Regions from separate parts of the Homo sapiens genome. Here regions 1 and 3 are each linked to region 2. The links come from fine-mapping of genetic effects on gene expression. A gene starts in region 2. Each other region holds a variant in brackets. All regions are shown on one strand. Distances are from middle to middle.

Region 1 (2,757 bases), 30 kb after region 2:
GATATTTGCTATGTGCGCTCCTCTGACGTGTATAGTTTTATGGGATCATACGATATAGATTTTTCACAACTTGCTTTTTTCTCACAGTAGCGTCTGTCACAGATGTTTCCACCTCAGCACTGCTGCCCAGAGTTTATTTAACCACCCCCGTGTTGGTAGAGTTTGGGTTGTTTCAGCATCTCACTGTTAGAACCAATGCTGTAAACAACAGCCTGGGGGTTGCCTCCACACGCCCTCACACTGGCATTTATGCAGGACAGACACAGTCCACGTGGCACTGTTTATGCTGATACAACACATTGCAACCCCAGCTTTTTGTATTCAGTGCCTGCCTGCGGGTGGCTCTGAGCTGGCCTTTCCATGGCATGCACTGCCCAGAGCCCCTCAGCGTCACCTCTGGGGCCACATTCAGGGAGGACAACGGACATAAGCCTGGGCCCCAGATATGGCAGGGTCAGGCCAAATGTGTGGCTGGGGTCCCCGGCCAGGTTTAGCACTGGCCAGTAAAGTGAGGCGGGGAAGTTTGCCTTTGGCACCTGTGCCCTCTGCACATGCTCCCTCCCTCCCTGCAAGCCCACTCCTCCCCTATCTCCACCAGCATAGGAGACGGCACTCGATAAGCAGCCATCAGCAAGTCACTCAGCTCTCAGACTCCTTTCCTCATGTAAGACCATGAGGACGCCCACCTCCCAGGGCAAATGGGGAGAGGGAGATGAGATCAAGTGTTGGTCTGGGGAAGGACTCTTCAGATGTAAGTTAATAGCGTCCTTGTCCCAGGGGGCCTCCTGCCCCATCCCATGTGCTCCTCCTGCAGAGTCTCCTGTTCAGCTGAACACTAACTCAAGTACCTGCCCTCCTTTTAGGGGTTTGCAGTCAATTCGGTTGCTAGCTCTCAGCCAAGATCCTAGCTACCCACTAAGATGTTAACTATAACCAAGATACCTGCTCTCAACCAAGACATTAGTTAACAATGCTTTCCATCTCCAAGGAGATAGCAGCAGATGACTTTCCCCTGTAAATCAATGCACTGCCATGCAGAATCTCTGATCATGTCTTTTGCCCTCATTAGACTGTCAGTTCTATGAGGGCAAGTTCTCTGGAATATAGTAGGTGCTCAGCAAATATTGTTGGGAATAAATCGATGAAAAGACTTTGTTTGACTCACAGGCATCAGGTGGCAGTGATGGGTCATACTGGTCAGTGGGGTTGAAATTTGAAGCAGGCCATCCCAGAGAACACCACATAGATAAGCATCTGTGGCTATGGACCAAGGGCTGGGGCAGAAATCATTTCATTCCTCTTCTCTCCAAGAGAAAAGCCAGCTGGCTGCTCTAGGGGGTCTCCTGCGTGGGTGCTTCTCAGAAGGGCCACCCCCAGAGCTGGACAGATCCAAGCCTTCCAAGTTAAGAGACTCCATTTCATTAGCTCACCCAGGGGTGACCAGGCTCT[G/A]GGAAACCAACCAAGCAAGCTACTGATTGAACAGCCAGATCAGCAGTTTATGAACTGATGCTGGCAGCTGTGACTGCCAAGTGGCCCAAAGCATTTGCACTGGGCCTTCTGCTTGCTCATTCTCTCTGCAGAAGGAAAATGTGCTTGGGAATCCAAATCAAACACAGAAGGAGCAGAGCGGAATGGAGAGAAATCATACTCAAAAATACAAATAGTGGATGCCACATACACTGTCATAAATCTACCCTCAAAACCACACCGTGGTGTGGGCATTGCTACTATCCCACTTTGTAGATGAGGACACTGAGGTCAAGTGGATGACTTGGCTACTGAGCAATGGAGCCGGGTCTCAAACCCAGGCATTTCAACTCCTGTTCCTGTCTGGAGTGCCCTTCCCTCAGTGCCACTGAGCTCAGGAGACTGACGCACCCCGTGCAGGGCTCCTCTCAGCCCTGGCCATGGCTCCCCATTTTCGCTGTGTTAAGGCCACTCAGCTCCCCAAGGAACAGTGCTGCCTCCCTGATGAGATGCAAGAGACACCTGAGTCTCATCAGTAGCACGTGCATGTCCTCAAGAGGGCACCTCTCCTTCTGCAGATAATAACAATGAAACCACATTAATATAATAGCAAGCATTCATTAAGTGCTTACTATGTGTCAGGCACCACGCCAGGCCCCTTGCATGCATTATCTCATTCTCACAACAACCTCAGGAGGCAGGCACGCTCATCTCCCTTTTACACATAGGGACTCACAGGCCTAGAGAGATTAAATGCTCTGCCCAGGTCCTACAGCTAATGAGTGGTAGAGCAGAGCCTGCAGTCCAAGTGGATCTGACTTTCAAGCCTGTGCTCATAATTGCCCCCACCTCCTCACCTTTGACGGTGGCCCTGCCTCAATGTCCCATGTGCTGGAATTGCTCCCTGTTGGAGCCCTGGCCTCTTGGGCCTGCCGGGGGGAGCATTGCACCAGGGCTGGGATTCGACTAGGATTCTACAGGGCTGCGTCTATAGCAACTCTAAAGTCTGGGTCTTGGGAGACAAGGAGTCCATGGCGGAGGTGAAGGAAAGGGAACTGGGCATGACCCCTGTCTACCAAGCAGAGTGCAAGCTGCAAGGGCAAGCCCCAATCCCTTCCTCCTCTATCCACTTCTCCCATAGTTCCTGCCTCACCGAGTTCCCCACTCTTCACACAACACCAGTCAGGCCTCCCAGGCTTCCCTAGGCCTTCCCAGCTAGCAAACTCCTACTTAAGCCTCAGGTGAAATGCCACCTCTCCTGGGTCACCTTCCTCTGGCCCAATTAGTAGC
Region 2 (2,757 bases):
ACTTGAACCCGGAAGACAGAGGTTGCAGTGAGCCAAGATTGTGCCACTGCACTCCAGCCTGAGCAACAGAACAAGATTTTCTCTGTAAAAAAAAAAAAAAAAAAAAAAAAAAAGACTTTGATAATTTGTCTGCCTACCTGGGCCCTGCTTTCTCAGGGACTTTAGGTGGGTCCCTGGGCAGTGAGAGGGAAGCAGAAGGTAAGTGGCCACCCCCACCTGTCCCAGGTCTTAGTTTCTCGTCCCATCCTAGCAGGTTCAGATACTTCTTTTAGGCAGATTTGTGGGTGCTCGCTCTGGGGCAGCCCAGGACATTCTGGTAGGAGACTCCTCAGTTAATAATACCTCACATACTTCCAGCACTTCTTGGTCTTTTATGTGCTTTTACGGCCATAACCTGTGCGTCTGACAGTCAATCTAGGATGGACAGAGCTCTGTTCTAAGCCTCTTTTTCGTAGGAGCTGCAGCTCAGAGAGGTTAAGGGCCTTGCCAAGGCCACGCGGCCAGTGGGTGACTAAATTGGGACTTGATCCCAGCTCTTGAGATTGCAAACCCCATAGTGACACTGCAGCAGCTACAGAAAACGGGGCCTGATGATGGCTGGGTCCCAGTGACACGTCTGGGGAAGCGGGGAGAACGAGCTCTGGCATGGGAGGAATGGAAAAGGGGGGAAGATGGAGACGGGGTGATGGAAGCTAAGCGTGGAGGCAGGAAGAGAGCTCTGGCAGGGGTTGTAGAGGCTTTGAGACAGAACTAGCGGTGTCTCCAGAAAGACCCCGTGAAATGTCCCAGCAGGGCTGAAAGAAACAGAAGAGGTGTCCTCCCACCCCATGTCTCTGTGAACCAAGGCAGGGAGGGACCTACTGTGTGCATTTCACAGGCGAGAAAAAGGAGCAAGGATAGGTGGCTATTGGCTTGCCCCAGGCCCACAGGAGCGCAGGGCCCAGGGGCCCTGTTAGAAGCGGGCAGCACAGGCGAGACTTCCAGACCTTCCCCTCTACCAGGGATGATGAAATAGATGATGAGAGGGGAGGTGGAGATGGAGACAGAAATCAGGGCCGCATCCAAAGAGGGAGGAGGAAAAGGCAGAGGCGCAGCTGGAGCTGCAGAGAGGTGCAGAGACAGTGGAGATGAGGCCCTGATGCCCGGCTCTGGTTTCACGCGGGCAGCGTCAGCTGGTCGGTGTCACGGAGTTCCCGCGTCCTCCGCCCGCTCAGCCCCCGCGGACCCATCCACTGGGGTTGCTCCGCAGCGCGACTCTCTCTCATCCCGGGGGAGGGCTAAGGGCGGCGGTGGGGGGCGGGGTGGGGGGGAAGCGGCGGGAGGGGGCGGTGCGCCGCCGCCTTACCCCGGGCTCGCGAATCCGCAGCGTCCTCCGCAGCATCTTCCCAGGCCCGGCCCTCTCCTCCCCCCGCGCCGATGGTACGCGCCGGCTCGCCTGGCCCGGCTGCAGTGGATGTTGCTAGAACCCACGCGGAGGAAGGAAGAGACGCAGGCAGGCTGCGGTTACCCAAGCGGCCACCCGGGCCTCAGGGACCCCTTCCCCGAGAGACGGCACCATGACCCAGGGAAAGGTACCGGCATCTCCCCAGCCTGCACCATCCTCCATCCTCCGGCTCCCGGCTCCCTGTCATCCTCAGCAAGCCCTCTGGACCACGAAAGCATCCTCCCCTGGCCCTAGTTTGAAGGTCCTCCGTGGTCCTTGCTGAAGTCAGAGGACCGAAAGGCCGGTGTCAAGGAATGGACCGAGGCCTCTTCCTGCCCGCAGGCGCGCCTCTCCTCCCCTGTCACCCTGCCACCCCTGCTTTGGCATTACAGCATTACAAGGCTCCTCACAGATACCCAGGCCCCCCGTGAGGAGTCAGCCCGGGCGTCTGGTGTGACTGTATGTGTGTGCATGGGTATGTGTGTGCCAGGGTGAGCCCTGAGGGGCAGTGCCTATCGGGCAACCCCCTCTGGCCCAACCCTCCAGTCCCAAACCCAACCACTTTATGCTCATCTTTCCCACCCTCCACGGAAACAACCCCCACCCTACTCCCTGCCATTGTTCCACATCTGGGCGTCTTGGCTCCATCCCTGTGCTTGGGGCTTGCTATGACAACTCTGCATCAAGATGCTCTAATTGTTGTTTTGGTTTTGGCCAGGCATGGATGGGTCCGGATGAAGCATCTCTTCTCCAGTTTTAGGCCTGAATTGTAGGGGAGGGGCTGGGGCAGAGACTCGGCTGGCCTAGTAGGCTTATGTAACATCAATAGCCTGTGGAATTATACAACCACTAGGGCCTGGGGCTAAGGGGGAGGGTACTCGGGCCCTCTGTTTGGGTTGCTAAGGATTGGGCAGAGAAAACAGGGGAAGGACCTCCCCTACACTCCCCCTTCTTCTCTTTGAGAGGAGCTTCAGAGCCAATGACATCCTTCCCTGGACCCTCAGACCCTCCTCTCCCTGTATGCAAGCTCTTTGGGCCTCAAATGATGTCACTGGGTGATACCACCTCCCGCCATTGGTCACACCTCACTTGGGAGTGCCGTATGTGTGTCGGGGGCCTGGGCATTAGGGTCCAGGAGGCTCTGGGGGGCGGAGTGGCAGGGTGGAGGCTGAACTCGATTTAGGTGGACATGATCCTTCAGATCCGGGTGATGAGGGGGGCTGGGGAGTGGGAGGCAGTGGGAGGCCTGGGGAGTGTTCAGTTCCGTAAACATGGAGAACTCACCCCTTCTGCTGAGTCTCCTTCCACCTCCACCCTGCCTCCACCAGGCCCTT
Region 3 (2,757 bases), 21 kb before region 2:
ACCAACCAGACCTTAGCCCTGGCAGGGGAGGGCAAGTCCCAAGAGAAGCTACTGATTGGGGGACAGCAGGCAGAGGACACAGTCCCCTGAAATATGCTGAGAAAGCCAGCCCTGTGCCAGCACCACTAGAGTCTAATCACCTCCAAGGCCCTAGACCCATCCCAAGAGAGGAAGGGCTGGGTAGGACCGGAAAGCGCCACTCCGAAGGTGGGATGTGACTGTAGGAACACACACATGCACACACACACACACACATGCACGCATATGCACACATGCACGATACACACACACATGCACGCATGCACACACATGCACACACACATACACACACATGCACGCATATACACACACACATGCACACATGCACGCACACACGCATACACACACACATGCATGCACACATCATCCCAGGATGCATACACACAAAAGGGGGCAAAATTACTTGGGCTTTGCAGTGAGACAGACCTCCGTTCAAATCCCTGCTCCACCACTTAATCTGTATGATCTTGGCAAGGTATTTAAATTCCAGAGCGTCCTCGAGAATGAACTTTGCAGGATTTTTGTGACAACTCAGTGAATCCTAACACAGTGCCTGGGACACAGTAGGAGGCCACTTTAGGATATTCTGTGTCCCCTCCTGCTCCCTCTTTCTCTGTCCTAGATGCTTGAGTCTTTGATCAGGCCATAGCATGGTGCAATAGAAAGAGATCTTGGCCCTGGGGTCAGACCACCCTGCATTTGAATCCCACCCATGCAGCTTCATTACCTCACATCCATAGAGCACTCGGCATGGCGCCGGGCCCACAGTGGGCACACAACAAGTGGTGTAAATACTACTGCTAGGTTCATCTTCAATGAGCCCAGGAGCTTACTGAGGCCAGCATCCAGGTAGGACCAGGTAGGACAGGGTGTTCAGGCCTGGAGAGAAGAAGGCGTGAGTCTGAGGGATTCACTAACAAAGGCTTAAGACGATCATGCAGTAATGATCCGATGGCCCCACTGGGAGTCTTGACACTGACTCATCCTCATGTTCGATTCAGTTCTAGGCAGCCTTCACAGAGCCATTTCCTGGCCTACACCCCTGTCATTCCCAGCCAGTCAATAAGCC[A/G]CCATCAATAAGGCTGCCAGATAAAATCTAGGACACACAGTTACATTTGAATTTCAGATAAATATTGAGTTTTTTTTGATATAAATGTGTCCCAAATATTGCATAGGGCATACTTATGCTAAGAAATTCTTATCTGAAATTCAAATTTAACTGTGCGTCCTATATTTTTATTTGCTAAAGATGGCACCCCTAGCCACTTGATCACCCACCACTTATAATAGTAATGACTTACATTTGTGAACACTTAAGCGACCATTACATCAGCTGCGTGCCGCCCTTTGCAGTCAAGGTCACGTCCACTAGCTGGTACATCCCTCCTTTGAAGAGGTGGCACATGACATTGTGGCGAGGGGACGTGCAGGCACTGCTGAGCCTCCTCAGCTCACTGAGGAGGCCCGGGGGGGCACCGGGCTCACTGGGAGTGGATGGGAGCCCTTAGTCAGCAATATCATTATTATTACCTGCCTTTAACAAGCAAAAAAACTGCAGTGCATTCATTTAACAAACGTGTACTAAGCCTGGTGCTTTTCAAGGCCTGAGAGGAGAGGTTAACTGATGTGCACAGTCCCCCGGCTGGTGGATGATGGCCAGCTGAACTCTGCAATCCTAGGCGGAGGCGGTCAAATGATTCTCCACCCTCTCCATCATGCCAATGCTGGAGAATCCCCAGCAATACATTGCAAGTGTGTCTGAATCTTCTGTGTATGTGTTCGTCTCCCTCCCCAGCCGGCTCCACTCCTCTTACCTCACTCCAGGCTGGGAGCCCCAGTGGCTAGAGACAGTCTTATTAACCTTAGGATTCCACTGAGGAGCTCAGAGTGGGTGCCCAGTAATTACAGGGAGTTATTGACGGGGGTCCCCTCTTTACCAAGCCACTGCTTCCTTGGGACCAGGGGCATGACACTGGTTACATACTTCCCACGGCCCTGCTCTTCTTCCTTCAGGTCACAAATTCCGAGGGCCTCTGGAAGGAGTCAAGAAAGGAAGGGCAGATACTTGGGTGGGACAGAAGAGGAGAGGTTGAAGACAGGATTAAGGCGGTAAAATACAAAACACATACTTACACAAATAACATTGTTTTGGCATCAGCAGTGCTGGCATTTACTGTGATGGGTGGGTCCCTAAAATTAAAGTTGATTGGGGAAGGGGTCAGGGCAGGGACAGGTTCAGAGTCAAGATACTCAGGGCAGTGCTGAATGAGTCTTAGAACACTAGCACGTAGGAGCAGCATTCCACAGCTGGCCCCTGCCCCTCACCCCACCCCAGCCCTTGGCCACTCCGCTCCAGCCACGCTGGCCACCCTGCCTGCGTGCTCCCTGTCAGGGCCTTTGCTCTTGCTGTTGACTGCTTGGAATGCTCTTCCCCCAAATGTCACTCAGTTGGCTCCCTTGCTTTTTCCAGTCTCCTTCTCAACAAGGCCAGCCCTGCCCATCCTGCTGAGTCCTGGAACTGCCACATCCCTGCCCTCCTCACCACCTTGCCTAGCACCGCTTTCCCCTGTCCACAGTATCTCTAACTTCTAGAACTTTTTGTTATTTTGCTCACTGATGTATCCTAACATTGCAGAATGGCACCTGGCATGGTGTGTGCTCAGTAAACATGTGTTGTGTTGAATTTGTTGAACTGAATCTGGAAGGACCTTGATCATC

Evidence for each region.
Region 1: its variant is fine-mapped to the expression of FAIM2 in thyroid (GTEx, PIP above 0.99). The same link has a PIP of 0.9 or more in lung and tibial artery.
Region 3: its variant is fine-mapped to the expression of FAIM2 in subcutaneous fat (FUSION, PIP 0.93).

Annotation. Positions count from the first base shown.
Region 1 is chr12:49,872,245-49,875,001 of GRCh38, reverse strand. The region is part of intron 11 of FAIM2 (Fas apoptotic inhibitory molecule 2); the gene reads left to right. Among named protein-coding and RNA genes, the nearest start is that of FAIM2, 30 kb to the left of the region's middle. The variant G/A (reference allele first, on the strand shown) is at 1,450.
Region 2 is chr12:49,902,592-49,905,348 of GRCh38, reverse strand. It overlaps FAIM2 (Fas apoptotic inhibitory molecule 2), which reads left to right and starts at 1,449. Exons shown (of 12, transcript NM_012306.4): 1 at 1,449-1,571. The coding sequence starts at 1,557.
Region 3 is chr12:49,923,097-49,925,853 of GRCh38, reverse strand. It overlaps LINC02395 (long intergenic non-protein coding RNA 2395), which reads right to left. Exons shown (of 6, transcript NR_110048.1): 2 at 2,173-2,757; 3 at 1,341-2,072; 4 at 767-918; 5 at 466-592. Among named protein-coding and RNA genes, the nearest start is that of LINC02395, 13 kb to the right of the region's middle. The variant A/G (reference allele first, on the strand shown) is at 1,109.